2 linked regions of the Homo sapiens genome follow. The protein of the gene in region 1 interacts with the protein of each later gene in a biochemical or structural test. Each region holds a gene or a part of one and is shown on either strand. Other genes may lie near its edges.

Region 1 (6,838 bases):
CTGGGATTATAGGTGTGAGCCACTGCCTCTGGCCTGATCCTCACCCTCTTTAATGGAGACTCACTCTAGAAGATAAATATTCCCTTTCTTACTAAAAATTAGGTCACATCTCATAACATAATTTTATGAATTTATTTTAAAAAACAAAAGTAAACAAAATTTTCCCTTTGAAGAAAAGGGTGAACAGAACAAGAAAGCAAAAGGGATAAAAATGAGTAAATGTCCAACAATGATAGTCTGGATTAAGAAAATGTGGCACATATACATCATGGAGTACTATGCAGCCATAAAAAATGATGAGTTCATGTCCTTTGTAGGGACATGGATGAAGCTGGAAACCATCATTCTCAGCAAATGATCGCAAGGACAAAAAACCAAACACCGCATGTTCTCACTCATAGGTGGGAATTGAACAATGAGAACACTTGGACACAGGAAGGGGAACATCGCACACCGGGGCCTGTTGTGGGGTAGGGGGAGGGGGGAGGGATAGCATTAGGAGATATATCTAATGTAAATGACAAGTTAATGGGTGCAGCACACCAACATGGCACATGTATACATATGTAACAAACCTGCACATTGTGCACCTGTACCCTACAACTTAAAAGTATAAATATATATATATATATATATATATATATATATATATATATATAATGAGTACCTTGCCTATCCTGTTCCATATATAAAGCACAGCGTCCAGCACATAGTAGGTGCTTAGTAAACAGTAGTGAGGTGTTCAGGGCATGTGCCTTGGAATAAGATAATCCAGATTCACGTTCTGGGTACATTACTTGCTAACTCCTCTACCTAGGGCAAGTTACTTAAACATCGCAAGTCTCAGTTTCTTCGCTGAGAAAGTGGGGAGAGTAACAGTGCCTACTTTGTAGGATTACTGTGAAGATTAAACTAAATTGTCAATCTAAAATCCTTAGTGCATGAGCCAGGTATGGCAGCTTGTGTCTATAATCCCAGCTACTTAGGAGGTTGGGGTGGGAGAAATGCTTGATGCTAGGAGTTCTAGACCAGCCTGAGCAACATAAAAAAAAAAAAAAACAATAAACCCCATCTCTTAAAAAAAAAAGAAATTAAAATTTAAAAATTAGCCAGGCATGGTGGCACATGCCTGCAGTCCCAGCTACTTGGGAGTCTGAGGTGGGAAGATCCCTTGAGCTCGAATTTGTGGCTGCAATGAACAATGATCACCTGGATGACAGAACAAGACCCCATCTCTTAAAGAAAACTGTTAGTGTCTAACACGTTATAAATATTTTATTATTGTTATTTACATACTTCAGCCTACCAAAACTCCTGTTTTCCATGGAGAAAACAGATCTGTTGATAACTCTGCAGTTTCCAGAAACACTGTGATTAGCAGAATGAGAAAAATGCCAGGAGAACTCAGAAGAGAAAGTCACTAGGAAGACTTAATCTCATCAGGTGATGCCAGAATCCAGAGGTTGTAATCTAGGACTTTGCCCAGGCATGCTTTGGGGCACAGTGGTGGGGAGGGAGCTGTTGCAAAGATGGGGCAAGAATGGTCTGGACATGACTCAGACACTTTAAAGTGAAAGAATGGGAAATTGTCTGGCAGCTGGTACTTACCATGGGCAGTCAGCACTCCTCTGACTGATTCACCTTCACCAGGGCACCAGCCTGCAGTGAAGTAGCTGGGGCTGGTTCCTTTTAGTGACACCCACCACCCCTTGCCCTTCCAGGTATTGTCCACAGATGACACCTCCTCCTCCTCCTCCTGCTCCTCCTCCTGCTCTGCCTCCTCCTCCTCCCCCTGCTCCTGCTTCTCCTCCTCTTCCTCCTGCTCCTTCTCCTCCTCCTCCTGCTCCTCCTCCTGCTCTTCCTCCTCCTCCTGCTCTTCCTCCTCCTCCTCCTGCTTCTCCTCCTCTTCTTCCTCCTGCTCTTTCTCCTCCTCTTCCTGCTCCTCCTCTCCTTCTGCTCCTCCTGCTTCTCCTCCTCCTGCTCCTCCTCCTCCACCTGCTCCTCCTCCTTCTCCTCCTCCTGCTCCTCCTCCTTCTGCTCCTTCTTCTCCTGCTCCTCTTCCTCCTGCTCCTGCTTCTCCTCCTTTCTCCTGCTCCTCCTCCTCCTGCTCCTCCTCCTGCTCCTCATCCTCCTTCTCCTCCTGCTCCTCCTTGTCCTCCTCTGCCCTTGATATTCACTTTGACCAGATTACACCAGTACAGAGAGTCCAAAGGTTAAATAGGCACACACTCACACACAAACTCACACTGGGCTAGAACAATGACAGAGCGTCCTGGGGGAGCAGAGTGGGGGCCGGGGGGAGGGGGAAAGGAGGATTGCAGGCCTAACTTTCACAAATCACCTGAAATTTCCACTGAAGGCATTATCTCCAAATGTTGCCACAGAGATAAACTGCCAGGATTACAAGAAAACGTGAAGACGTTCCCATAGAACTCTGTAATGCTTATATCCATCACCAGGAATGTCTGCCCTTGGCGCCCTAAACATAGATTGATTGATTGATTGATTGATTGATTTTGAGGCAGAGTCTCACTCTGTCACCCAGGCTGGAGTGCAGTGGTGCGATCTCAGCTCACTGCAACCTCCTCCTTCCGGGTTCAAGGGATTCTCCCACCTCAGCCTTGGAGTAGTTGGGATTACAGGCTCCTGCCACCACGCCCGGCTAATTTTTGTATTTTTTGTAGAGACTGGGTTTTGCCATGTTGGCTAGGCTGGTCTCAAACTCCTGACCTCAAGCGATCCTCTTGCCTCAGCCTTCCAAAGTGCTGGGATTACAGGCGTGAGCTACGGTGCCTGGCCCTAAATATAGATATTTTTAATAAATCCTCTACTTATCTCACAACGAGCTCAATCGCTTTGCATTAGATCGTTGGGTGTGTTAAAAGTATTCATGTGTTACATTAAATGTGAATTCAACAAAAGCAGAGATTTTTGTGTTTTGTTCTTCATTGTATCCCTTGATTGTAGAAAAGTGGCACATAGTAGGTGCTCAGTTAATCGTTGTTAAATGAAGACATAAATGAAATATAAACCATTAAATGTCCACCATATTTGTAAGCGTTTTGGCATGTCTTCATTGAAAGAATACCAGGCAGCTGGGAGCCATAGTTTACTCCGGTAATCCCAGTGCTTTGGGAGGCTGCAGGTGAGAGGATCGCTTGAGACCAGGAGTTCAAGAGCCACCAGGGCAACATAGAGAGACCTTGTCTCTACAAAAACAAAACAAAACAAAACAAAAAACAAAAAACACAATTCCCTTAAGCCGCCCCTTCCCCTTCCACTGCTCAGAGAAGGCCTTCCAGCAGAGCAGAGCACGAGGTCGCTGGCACACACCCATCCTCCACCAGTCCTGGCCTCTGTAGAGCAAGCCAGCAGAGCAGGCTGTTTCTCTCATTCAGGGACGGTTTAGGGGGTGGCAGGAAAAAATGGTTGCTGATAGGCGAAGGGCCTCCCTGGGTTGGAGAGAACCCCAGCCTCGGATGGTCCCAGCACATTTAAAAGAGAAGCAGTGCCAAAGGTGGGGTGCACTGAAAGCTGCTGGATGAAGGGAAAGATCCTTGTGCTCAGCCCGGAAAACCGGAGGATGGATACCAGGCCGAGGGGTCCCTCCGTGCCCCAAGAGAAAGTTCACCAAGTTTAGATCCCAGTGCCCCGCAGCGGGTGAAGGTGGTCCCGCCCCAGGCCGGATCTGGCCACAGGGCTGGCGGCGCGCTGGAAAACCGCCCACGTGGGAAGAAGCCCTGGCTGCATTTCCGCCCTGGACTGCGCTCCCGCCTGCCAGCGCGGTCCCTGCGCAGCCGCCCCGCGCCCACTAGGTGGCGCCTGCGCTCTAGTGGGCGCTTCACAGGCGCAGCGACAGCGACAGCGACAGCTCGAACCTGAGTCCCAGGATTCCGGGGACTGGAGGGCAGCGCCGGCAGCCAAGGTAGGATTCCTGAGCCCCGGGCGTCTCCCTGGAGCCTCTGAGGTCGGGGTGGACAGCGGGGCGGCCGCTGGGCACCGCTTGCGGTCTGCAGAGATAACCGGAGGAGTCGGGGCGGCAGCACGTGTTGTAGCCGTGGGGGGGACCCAGAGACCCGCAGCCTCGGAGCTGGGCCTAGAGCAAGGCAGAGCACCAGGTCGCTGGCACGCTCGCATCCTCCCCAGCCCTCGCCTCCCAGAGCATGCCCGAATCCCCAAGCCGGGCGTCCTCGAAGCGGAAAGCAGCCACTGTCGCCCAGAGCCACTCCAGGGTGGCAGCCGAGTGCTGATAAGGTCCAGAGCACCACTTCTTAAACTTGTCTGCCCGTTGGCGTTGCTTGGGAAGCATTAAAAAAATACCGATGCCCTAGTTCCACCCCCGCCCCCCCCCAGAGACTCAGATGTGATTGGTCTGGGTGGGGGACTGGACATCTGGGTATTAAAATGTTTGCAAGAGATTCCAGCTGGCAGCCAAATTTGAGGACCCTTGATCTAAGGAGTTGGAGAAAAACGGAGGACATTTGTTTGTTCTAACCCAGAATGCTGATGATTCCCTCCTCCTCCTATTCCTCCAGTTCGCCCTCCTCCTCCTTTCTCATGTGCCTTTTAAGCAGGAAATGCCTCTGCCTTTGTACTGTCAAACCCAAGATAACAAACTAACCATCCCCCACCCCCCACAGTAGGGCTGGTTCTGAAAGGGTTGAACTCGAAAGTGGACAAGGAACAGAAAGACACCAGTGTGGAATGTGAGCGAAGACTCTTAGGGGTTTATGGGTAGGAAGGGGGTTCCTCCCCACCCTGATCCCAGAGAAGATCAGGAGACTGGCTGGAGCTGTCTTCCTCATTTTGGCAAACCTAGCTGATTAGGCAGTGAGAGGCCTTATAACGAGCCTTTTTTACAACTAGTAAAAGGGCCCTTTTACAACTAGTAAAAATGAGCCCTTATGTTTGTTTGTTTTATAGAGATAGGGCCTCACTATATTCCCCAGGATGGTCTCAAACTCCTAGGCTCAAGCCATTCTCCAGCCTCGGCCTCCCAAAGTGCTGGGATTATAGGCATGAGCCGCTGCGCCCCGCTGACCCCTTATGTTTATATAACAGCAGTGTTACTAACATGGGCATAGATTCCCCCCCATAGGCAGCCCTTCCTTTGTGACCTTGGAAACTCACTGAACCATCCTCAGCTTCAGTTTTTGTATCTGCAAAATGGGTGTGAAAATCGGGTTGCCTTGGGAATTATTCACAATAAAAGCTACTGTTTACTAAGGGTTCACCCTATGCTAGAGGCTTTCTGTGCAGGGCCAAGTTAGACTCCTGACCATAACTTCCACGGTAGAACTATGAATACTGCATTTGATAGCCAAGGAAACTGAGGCTCAGAGAGGCCAATGATCTTGCTCGAAGTTATATAATTAATTAATAAGAAGCATGTCCCATATTTGAACCCAGGCAGTCTGCTCTTGAGCTCAGGTGCAAAAGAACAATACTCTGCTGTTTCCCTTGTTGACCAGGACAGCGTGCACGGGGCAGGCGCGTGGTGTGTCTTCACAAACACTAGCTATCACTGCTGTGAGCTGAGCACTTCCACTGAATTGACTCATTCGCTCATTGGAAATACATTTATTATTGAGAGCCTACTGTGGGCCAGGCAGTTTTCCAGATGCTAGAGATAAAATATGAGTAAGACAGAATTCAGCCAGCCCCGAATGAGAGAAACAGGAAGAAAGTGCAGTAGATTCTCATTATTCACAAGTTCTAAATTTGCAAATTCTTCCCTGTAATCCCAGCACTTTGAGAGGCTGAGGCAGGAGGATCGCTTGAGGCTAGGAGTTTCAGATCAGCCTGTGCAACAGAGCAAGGCCCTGTTTGCTTAAAAATTATACACATTGAATAATTCTTAAAAAAAATTTGTTTGTGGCCAGGCATGGTGGCTCATGCATATAATCCCAGTACTTTGGGAAGCTGAGGCAGAAAGATTACTTGAGGCTAGGAGTTCCAGATCAGCCTGGGTAACACAGTAAGACCCTATATCTTTATTTTAAAAATTATATAATTAAAGAATTTTTAAAAAAATATGTTTGTGGCCGGGTGTGGTGGCTCACACCTGTAATCCCAGCACTTTGGGAGACTGAGGTGTGAGGTTAGGAGTTTGAATTTAGGAGTTTGACACCAGCCTAATCACTTGAGCTAAGGAGTTTGAGACCAGCCTGGACAGCATAGAGAGACCTTGGCTCATTTAAAAAAAAAAAGAGGAAAAAAGGCCGGGTGCAGTGGCTCATGCCTGTAATCCCAGCACTTTGGGAGGCCGAGGTGGGTGGATACCTGAGGTCAAGAGTTCGAGACCAGCCTGGCCAACATGGCAAAACCCCGTCTCTACTAAAAATTCAAAAAATTAGCTGGGCGTGGTGGCAAGAGCCCGTAATCCCAGCTGCTTGGGAGGCTGAGGCAGGAGAATTGCTTGAACCTGGGAGGTGGAAGTTGCAGTGAGCCAAGATCACGCCATTGTACTCCAGCCTGGGCAACAACAGCGAAACTCCATCTCAAAAAAAAAAAAGAAAGAAAAAAGAAAAATAATGTCTGCGTAACTTCCAAATCAATATCCATGACACTTTCACAGTCATATATGGATGCACGTAGAATAGTGAAAAAGTTGAGTCACCCAACGTGCACATTTCCAGCCAAGGGCAAACAGGAGGACACGCTGCTTTCTGGTTTCAGCTCTTGTGCTATAAACAAGTGTCCCTTTTGTGGTGTACTTAGTGCCACATTTTTTGCATGTTTGTGTGTTTTTGTTTGTGATGTCGCTGTTTGAAATGGCCCCAAGTGTACAGTTGACGTGCTGTCTAGTGTTCCTAAGTATGAGAAGGCTGCGATGTGC
Region 2 (7,026 bases), on another chromosome or scaffold:
CAGTGTTTGTGCTCATTTTCCCCGGCTCTCCCACACATGTAATCCCTTCTGAGCATGTTGGCTTCAAATAATATGGCCAGCCACCTCTTCCACCACGAGATCTTCAGGAAATGGCAGGCCACTGGGTTTACATGCAGATGGCATGGGAGCACACAAGGCACGGCTGTGGGGAGTTGGCACTTGCTCCAGAATATGGAGCACCGAGTGAAGGTTTCAGTTTCCTGCACTGAGAGAAACAAGGGCATTCCGAGGCTTTTCCACTTTATCCCTAAAGAGTTTCACAACGCTTGTTTGCCGATTTCTACATAGATGCCACCTTTCTGAGTTGTATGTATTTACATGCCAAATGTATTCATTGAGCAGCGTTAAATAATGGTGTTCACCCCTAAAGTGCATATACTGGTAAAATTAAGAATGATCGTAATTAAGCCTCTTGCAATAGTCATTAGTTCAGAGAATATTTAAGAATATTAAAGGTGCTTTGCTAATGTCCTCGTTAGTTTTGTTTTGACAAAATCAGTACTTCAGTTTCTTGTTTCTTTTTTTTTTGAGACGGAGTCTTACTCTCGCTCTGTCGCCCAGACTGGAGACTGGAGTGCAGTGGCACGATCTTGGCTCACTGCAACGTCCACCTCCCAGGTTCAAGCGATTCTCCTGCCTCAGCCTCCCGAGTAGCTGGGGTTACAGGCACACACTATGCCTGGCTAATTTTTTTTTTTTTTTTGAGACGGAGTCTCGCTCTGTCACCCAGGCTGGAGTGCAGTGGCGCAATGTCGGCTCACTGCAAGCTCTGCCTCCTGGGTTCACGCCATTCTCCTGCCTCAGCCTCCCGAGTAGCTGGGACTACAGGCGCCCGCCACCACACCCAGCTAATTTTTTTGTATTTTTAGTAGAGACGGGGTTTCACCATGCTGGCCAGGCTGGTCTCGAACTCTTGACCTCAGGTAAACCACCCACCTCAGCCTCCCAAAGTTCTGGGATTACAGGCGTGAGCCACCATGCCCAGCCCAGTACTTCAGTTTCTTAGCGATGAAATCCACCCAATGTCAGGCGATGACTATTATTATTTTACTGATTTATACTGTTTGTTCTCTATTAATGTCTTATTTTCCCCAACCGATTTTGAAGTTGAGTAAGGACTATGTTCCGCGGGTATCTTGAGTCCTCTGAGGCACTGAGCTTGGTGATTTGGACGCAGGAGCTGCTCATTAGTGAGCTGATAGCTGGGAGCATAGCGCATCCCACATCACCTGACTTACCTTGGTGTCCTCCTTTGTAGCCTTTTGTCATACATGATATGGAGACACTGTGTATGGCTGAGAAGACGCTGGTGGCCAAGCTGGTGGCCAATGGCATCCAGAACAAGGAGGCGGAGGTCCGCATCTTTCACTGCTGCCAGTGCACGTCAGTGGAGACCGTCACGGAGCTCACGGAATTCGCCAAGGCCATCCCAGGCTTCGCAAACTTGGACCTGAACGATCAAGTGACATTGCTAAAATACGGAGTTTATGAGGCCATATTCGCCATGCTGTCTTCTGTGATGAACAAAGACGGGATGCTGGTAGCGTATGGAAATGGGTTTATAACTCGTGAATTCCTAAAAAGCCTAAGGAAACCGTTCTGTGATATCATGGAACCCAAGTTTGATTTTGCCATGAAGTTCAATGCACTGGAACTGGATGACAGTGATATCTCCCTTTTTGTGGCTGCTATCATTTGCTGTGGAGGTGAGTGGTTGATTTAATCTGCTGGTATCATGTCACTGACAGGCTCCTGTCTTGAAAAATTTGACAATGGGAAATCCAGTACCAGCCTGAGCTGTTCCAGTGGAGGGGACACTCACATGGTGGGAAGACGTCTGACCCCCAGTCACTGCTGAGAATTCAGTGGGAATTATAACAATATTGTATAATATTATAGTATATATTGTTATTATCTATAAATACATATTTAATATTATGTAAATGTATGACATTTTAATCATAATATTAGCCAGGTGTGGGGGTGCACACCTTTAGTCCCAGCTACTTACTCAGTAGACTGAGGCAAAAGGATCTCTTGAGCCCAGGAGTTCAGGTTGCAATGAGTTATGAATGCACCACTGCACTCTAGCCTGGGCAACAGAACAAGACCTATTTCTTTAAAAAAAAATTATATATTTTGCACAAATATATATATAGAGAAAAAGAGGTCGGACATGGGCCTGTAATCCCAGCCCTTTGGGAGGCTGAGGTGGGTGGATCACTTGAGCCCAGGAGGTTGAGACCAGCCTGGGCAACATGGCAAGACCCCGTCTCTACAAAAAAAAAAATAGAAAAAATTAGTCAAGTATGGTGGCATGTACCTGTAGTCCCAGCTACTTGAGAGGCTGAGGTGGGAGGATCACTTAAGCCCAGGAGACAAAGGTTGCAGTGAGCCAAGGTCACGCCACCACACTCCAGCCTGGGCGACGAAGAATGACCCTGTCTCAAAAAAAAAAAAAAAAAAAATTATACACACACACACACACACACATTTCGTTTATATTATATCTAATATTATAAACAGATATAATTTATATATTATGATATTCCTGTATATATTATATAATGATGTTGTATTCATATTATAGACAATATTGTATGAAGTGCTATACAGATGTCAGTATAGTTGCTGTCACAGTTGGTTATGTTGATGAAAAGTATATTTCCTAATGCAAAATATAATATCAGTCAGCAGCCAAGTGGCAGTGACTGCAAGGTTTGCTTTGCCCGAGGAAGCAGATCCCAGGGAAGGCCGATCTGGTCCTCTCTGTGGAAGCTGGCTCTGCAGCCTCCACATTTTTGGCTCGGTGTCACGTTCCTTTAAATAGCCCCATCTCAGGTCTAGGAAGGTCATCCACCTACTGCAAACTCGGCTGACCTTACCCAGGGTTGGTGGAGACAGATGGGGTCTCCCACACTGCCTGCAGCCATACTGCGCCTGGGGGATTGACTCACTGTCAGCATGGAGCTGACTCAGCCCTACCAGCCGTGCCCGTTACTGTGTGGCTGGGCACAAGTCAGATGAAGGAAGTCCTTGCGCTCTGGCATAAAGTGTACAAAGACAAAGCAGTTATGCATAATTTGTCCTTTAGTATGGTCAGGATGTAGCATTGTGGGTAAAATGCAGTTGCAGAACTATTTATATGTAGCATGATCACAGTTTTATAAAGGAAATTATAATCCTATATCAATCCTATGTATATAGAAAAATGTCCAGTGAGATATATGTTAAACCTATTATGGTGGGATTAAAATTATGAGGGGGGATTTCTATTTTTCAAAAGATTCCTCCTTTTTTTTTTTTTTGAGACAGAGTCTCCGTCTGTCACCCTGGCTGGAGTGCAGTGGCACGATCTCAGGTCACTGCAACTTCCGCCTCCTGGGTTCAAGTGATTCGCCTGCCTCAGCCTCCTGAGTAGCTGAGATTACAGGAACATGCCAGCACACCTGGCTAATTTTTGTATTTTTAGTAAAGATGGGGTTTCACCATATTGGCCAGGCTGGTCTCAAACTCCTGACCCCGGGTGACCCACCCACCTCGGCCTCCCAAAGTGCTGGGATTACAGGCATGAGCCACTGCACCCGGCAATAATTCCTCTCTTTAGAGACTTAATAGTTATAGCCCCAGCCACTCTGGAGGCCGAGGCAGGAGGATTGCTTGAGCCTAGGAGTTCCAGTCCAGCCTAAGCAACAGAGCAAGACCCCATCACTAAAACAATACAAAAACAAGAATTTTAGAAATAAAAACTTAATAATTACATTTACAACCAAAAACAATGAAGATGTTTAAATCCTCATCACTAGCAACCCTGTTAAGAATCATAGTAATGACTGGGTCTGTAAGGGAGCACCGCCTGCTGAACATGGCTCAGGGCAGTATTTTCTGGACCAAGAATCAGGTCTCATGCTTTGAGACTGTCCCAGGATGTCTAGTGCCAGCTACCCCAGGCAGGTCATCTGGTGTGAATGTTGACTCTTCCTGCACCAAGTCTCAGACCTGCCCCACCCTCCTCCCCACTCTGGGTCTCCTGATCTTGGCTCACTGCAATCTCCGTCTCCCAGGTTCAAGCGATTCTCCCACCTCAGCCTCCCGAGTATCTGGGATTACAGGCGTGAGCCACCGTGCCTGGCCTACAAAACCTAGTTCTAACACAATCACTCCTTAAATATGGTGGAACACTTGAAGCTTGATATCTAGTTTGGATTCAAAAGCTTCATTTCCCATATTATGCAAAACTGGTGGTTGTGATCTCCAGAATGTACTGTTCCTCCTACTAGCTCTAATTTTTCTCCCTGACAGGTGGTCATCAGGTAAATCACAAGTGAAAAGGCCGCACCATAAGGTGTACTTAGGGCACTATTGCCGCCTAGTAGTATGAATATTTAGGAAAGAGTACTGGTCCTGTCTGTCCCTACTTCACCTATTGACTTTGGAAAAACCTATGTCTATCTTCCAGTCAAGTTGACAATATCTAAAGGCAGCTCAGTTTTTTTCTAAGAAAGGCCACATAAAATAGGCATGTTTGGTTCCTGAAACTGATAAGCAGTTCTTGGGTGATTATCACACTCAAACCTCTCTCTCTTCTTTCGAGACTAGATCGTCCTGGCCTTCTAAACGTAGGACACATTGAAAAAATGCAGGAGGGTATTGTACATGTGCTCAGACTCCACCTGCAGAGCAACCACCCGGACGATATCTTTCTCTTCCCAAAACTTCTTCAAAAAATGGCAGACCTCCGGCAGCTGGTGACGGAGCATGCGCAGCTGGTGCAGATCATCAAGAAGACGGAGTCGGATGCTGCGCTGCACCCGCTACTGCAGGAGATCTACAGGGACATGTACTGAGTTCCTTCAGATCAGCCACACCTTTTCCAGGAGTTCTGAAGCTGACAGCACTACAAAGGAGACGGGGGAGCAGCACGATTTTGCACAAATATCCACCACTTTAACCTTAGAGCTTGGACAGTCTGAGCTGTAGGTAACCGGCATATTATTCCATATCTTTGTTTTAACCAGTACTTCTAAGAGCATAGAACTCAAATGCTGGGGGTAGGTGGCTAATCTCAGGACTGGGAAGATTACGGCGAATTATGCTCAATGGTCTGATTTTAACTCACCCGATGTTAATCAATGCACATTGCTTTAGATCACATTCGTGATTTACCATTTAATTAACTGGTAACCTCAAAATTCGTGGCCTGTCTTCCCATTCACCCCGCTTTTGACTATTGTGCTCCTTTATAATTCTGAAAACTAATCAGCACTTTTTAACAATGTTTATAATCCTATAAGTCTAGATGTATCCAAAGGTGAAGTATGTAAAAAGCAGCAAAATATTTATTTCAAAGACTTCACTTCTGTTTCCTGAATCTAAAGAAAGACAACATGCTGCTTTTTAATCATAGGATGGAGAATTTTAAAGAACTGTTTGGGCCAGGCACAGTCGCTCATACTTGTAATCCCAGCACTTTGGGAGGCCGAGGCGGGTGGATCACAAGGTCAGCAGATCGAGACCATCCTGGCCAACATGGTGAAACCCTGTCTCTACTAAAAATACAAAAATTAGCCGGGTGTGGTGGCACATGCCTGTAATCCCAGCTACTCGGGAAGCTGAGGCAGGAGAATTGCTTGAACCAGGGAGTTGGAGGTTGCAGTGAGCTAAGACTGCACCACTGCACTCCAGCCTGGTGACAGAACGAGACTCTGTCTTAAAAACAAACAAACAAAAAAAAAATCTGTTAGATAAGCTATCAAAATGCAGCTGTTGTTTTGTTTTTGGCTCACTGTTTTCGTGGTTGTAACTAATATGTGGAAAGGCCCATTTCCAGGTTTGCGTAGAAGAGCCCAGAAAACAGAGTCTCAAGACCCCCGCTCTGGACTGTCATAAGCTAGCACCCGTGGTAAGCGGGACGAGACAAGCTCCCGAAGCCCGCCAGCTTCCTGCTCCACTCAGCTCCGTCCAGTCAACCTGAACCCACCCAGTCCAGCTGTCTGTGGGAATGGTGGTGTTCTTAGGGACAGACTGACACCTTACTTGTCAGTGTTCCTCCGGGCCCCATTTGGCAGCTCCCGTATCTTTTGTTATGTTGCTTTTAAAGATATGATGTTTTATTGTTTTAACTCTTGGTGACAGTAGATGCTCTCTGGAGCGCAGACGAGGCACATGTGTCTTCATAGCCTGGGCTGGGTGGGAGCCAGTCACCCTGCGGATCGAGAGAGGGGGTAGAGTCTTCTTCAAATGGCAGTTTTACTTCAAATGGCAGATTTCACAAGAGTTGGTTATTTTTTACAATGGTTTAGGTTGTTAAGTCTCCTTTGTATGTAAGGTAGTTTTTTCAACATCTAAAATTTTTGTTTTAGCCTTCAAAACCAACTTACCAACCTCAGTCCAGCTGGGAAGGCAGCGTTGATTATGGTAGTTTGTCAAGAATATATGGACCTGGAAACACTTTCTCTCTCTGTCCACCTGGTAGATAAATTGTCCTGTTGAGAATTTTTAGATCTGGACTGGAACTGCCAGGACCACCGCCTCCAGGGAGTCGCTGGGCACCTGGAGGTATCGTCGATGCCTCTCCCCCATCTTTAGAAAATTTGGCTCTTCTGAGGTCATTATTATTTTAAGAATGATTAGGATTGATAAGGGTCCCATGACCAGCATTATGAAAATGCGAGAGTGGGAAGGACACAGTGTGAGACTTCCACTAGAAAAAAGTGAAAGTTAGGGTTAGGACATCCTTTTTTAAAAATTACAAATTTAGTCCGTTTTGGTTTTTGTAATCAGGCTAGGCACAGTGGCTCACACATGGAATCCCAGCACTTTGGGAGGCCGAGGTGGGAGGATCACTTGAGCCCAGGAGTTCGAGACCAGCCTAGGCAACATAGCAAGACCCTGTCTGTACACAAAATTTAAAAATTAGTTCATCGGGGTGGCACACATCAGTAGTCCCAGCTACTCTGCAGGCTGAGGTGGGAGGATTGCTTGAACCCAGGAGGTCGAGGCTGC

The links. The genes of interacting proteins can lie anywhere in the genome.
Region 2: the proteins of CHD9 (region 1) and PPARA form a complex in vitro, tested with the Homo sapiens proteins (one study listed by BioGRID).

Annotation. Positions count from the first base shown.
Region 1 is NC_000016.10:53,051,153-53,057,990, forward strand, and holds the start of CHD9 (chromodomain-helicase-DNA-binding protein 9), read left to right. Parts: upstream 1-3,838; 5' UTR 3,839-3,925; intron 3,926-6,838. UniProt on the Homo sapiens protein: Probable ATP-dependent chromatin-remodeling factor. Acts as a transcriptional coactivator for PPARA and possibly other nuclear receptors. Has DNA-dependent ATPase activity and binds to A/T-rich DNA.
Region 2 is NC_000022.11:46,230,513-46,237,538, forward strand, and holds part of PPARA (peroxisome proliferator-activated receptor alpha), read left to right. Parts: intron 1-1,279; coding exon 1,280-1,727; intron 1,728-4,620; coding exon 4,621-4,868; 3' UTR 4,869-7,026. UniProt on the Homo sapiens protein: Ligand-activated transcription factor. Key regulator of lipid metabolism. Activated by the endogenous ligand 1-palmitoyl-2-oleoyl-sn-glycerol-3-phosphocholine (16:0/18:1-GPC). Activated by oleylethanolamide, a naturally occurring lipid that regulates satiety.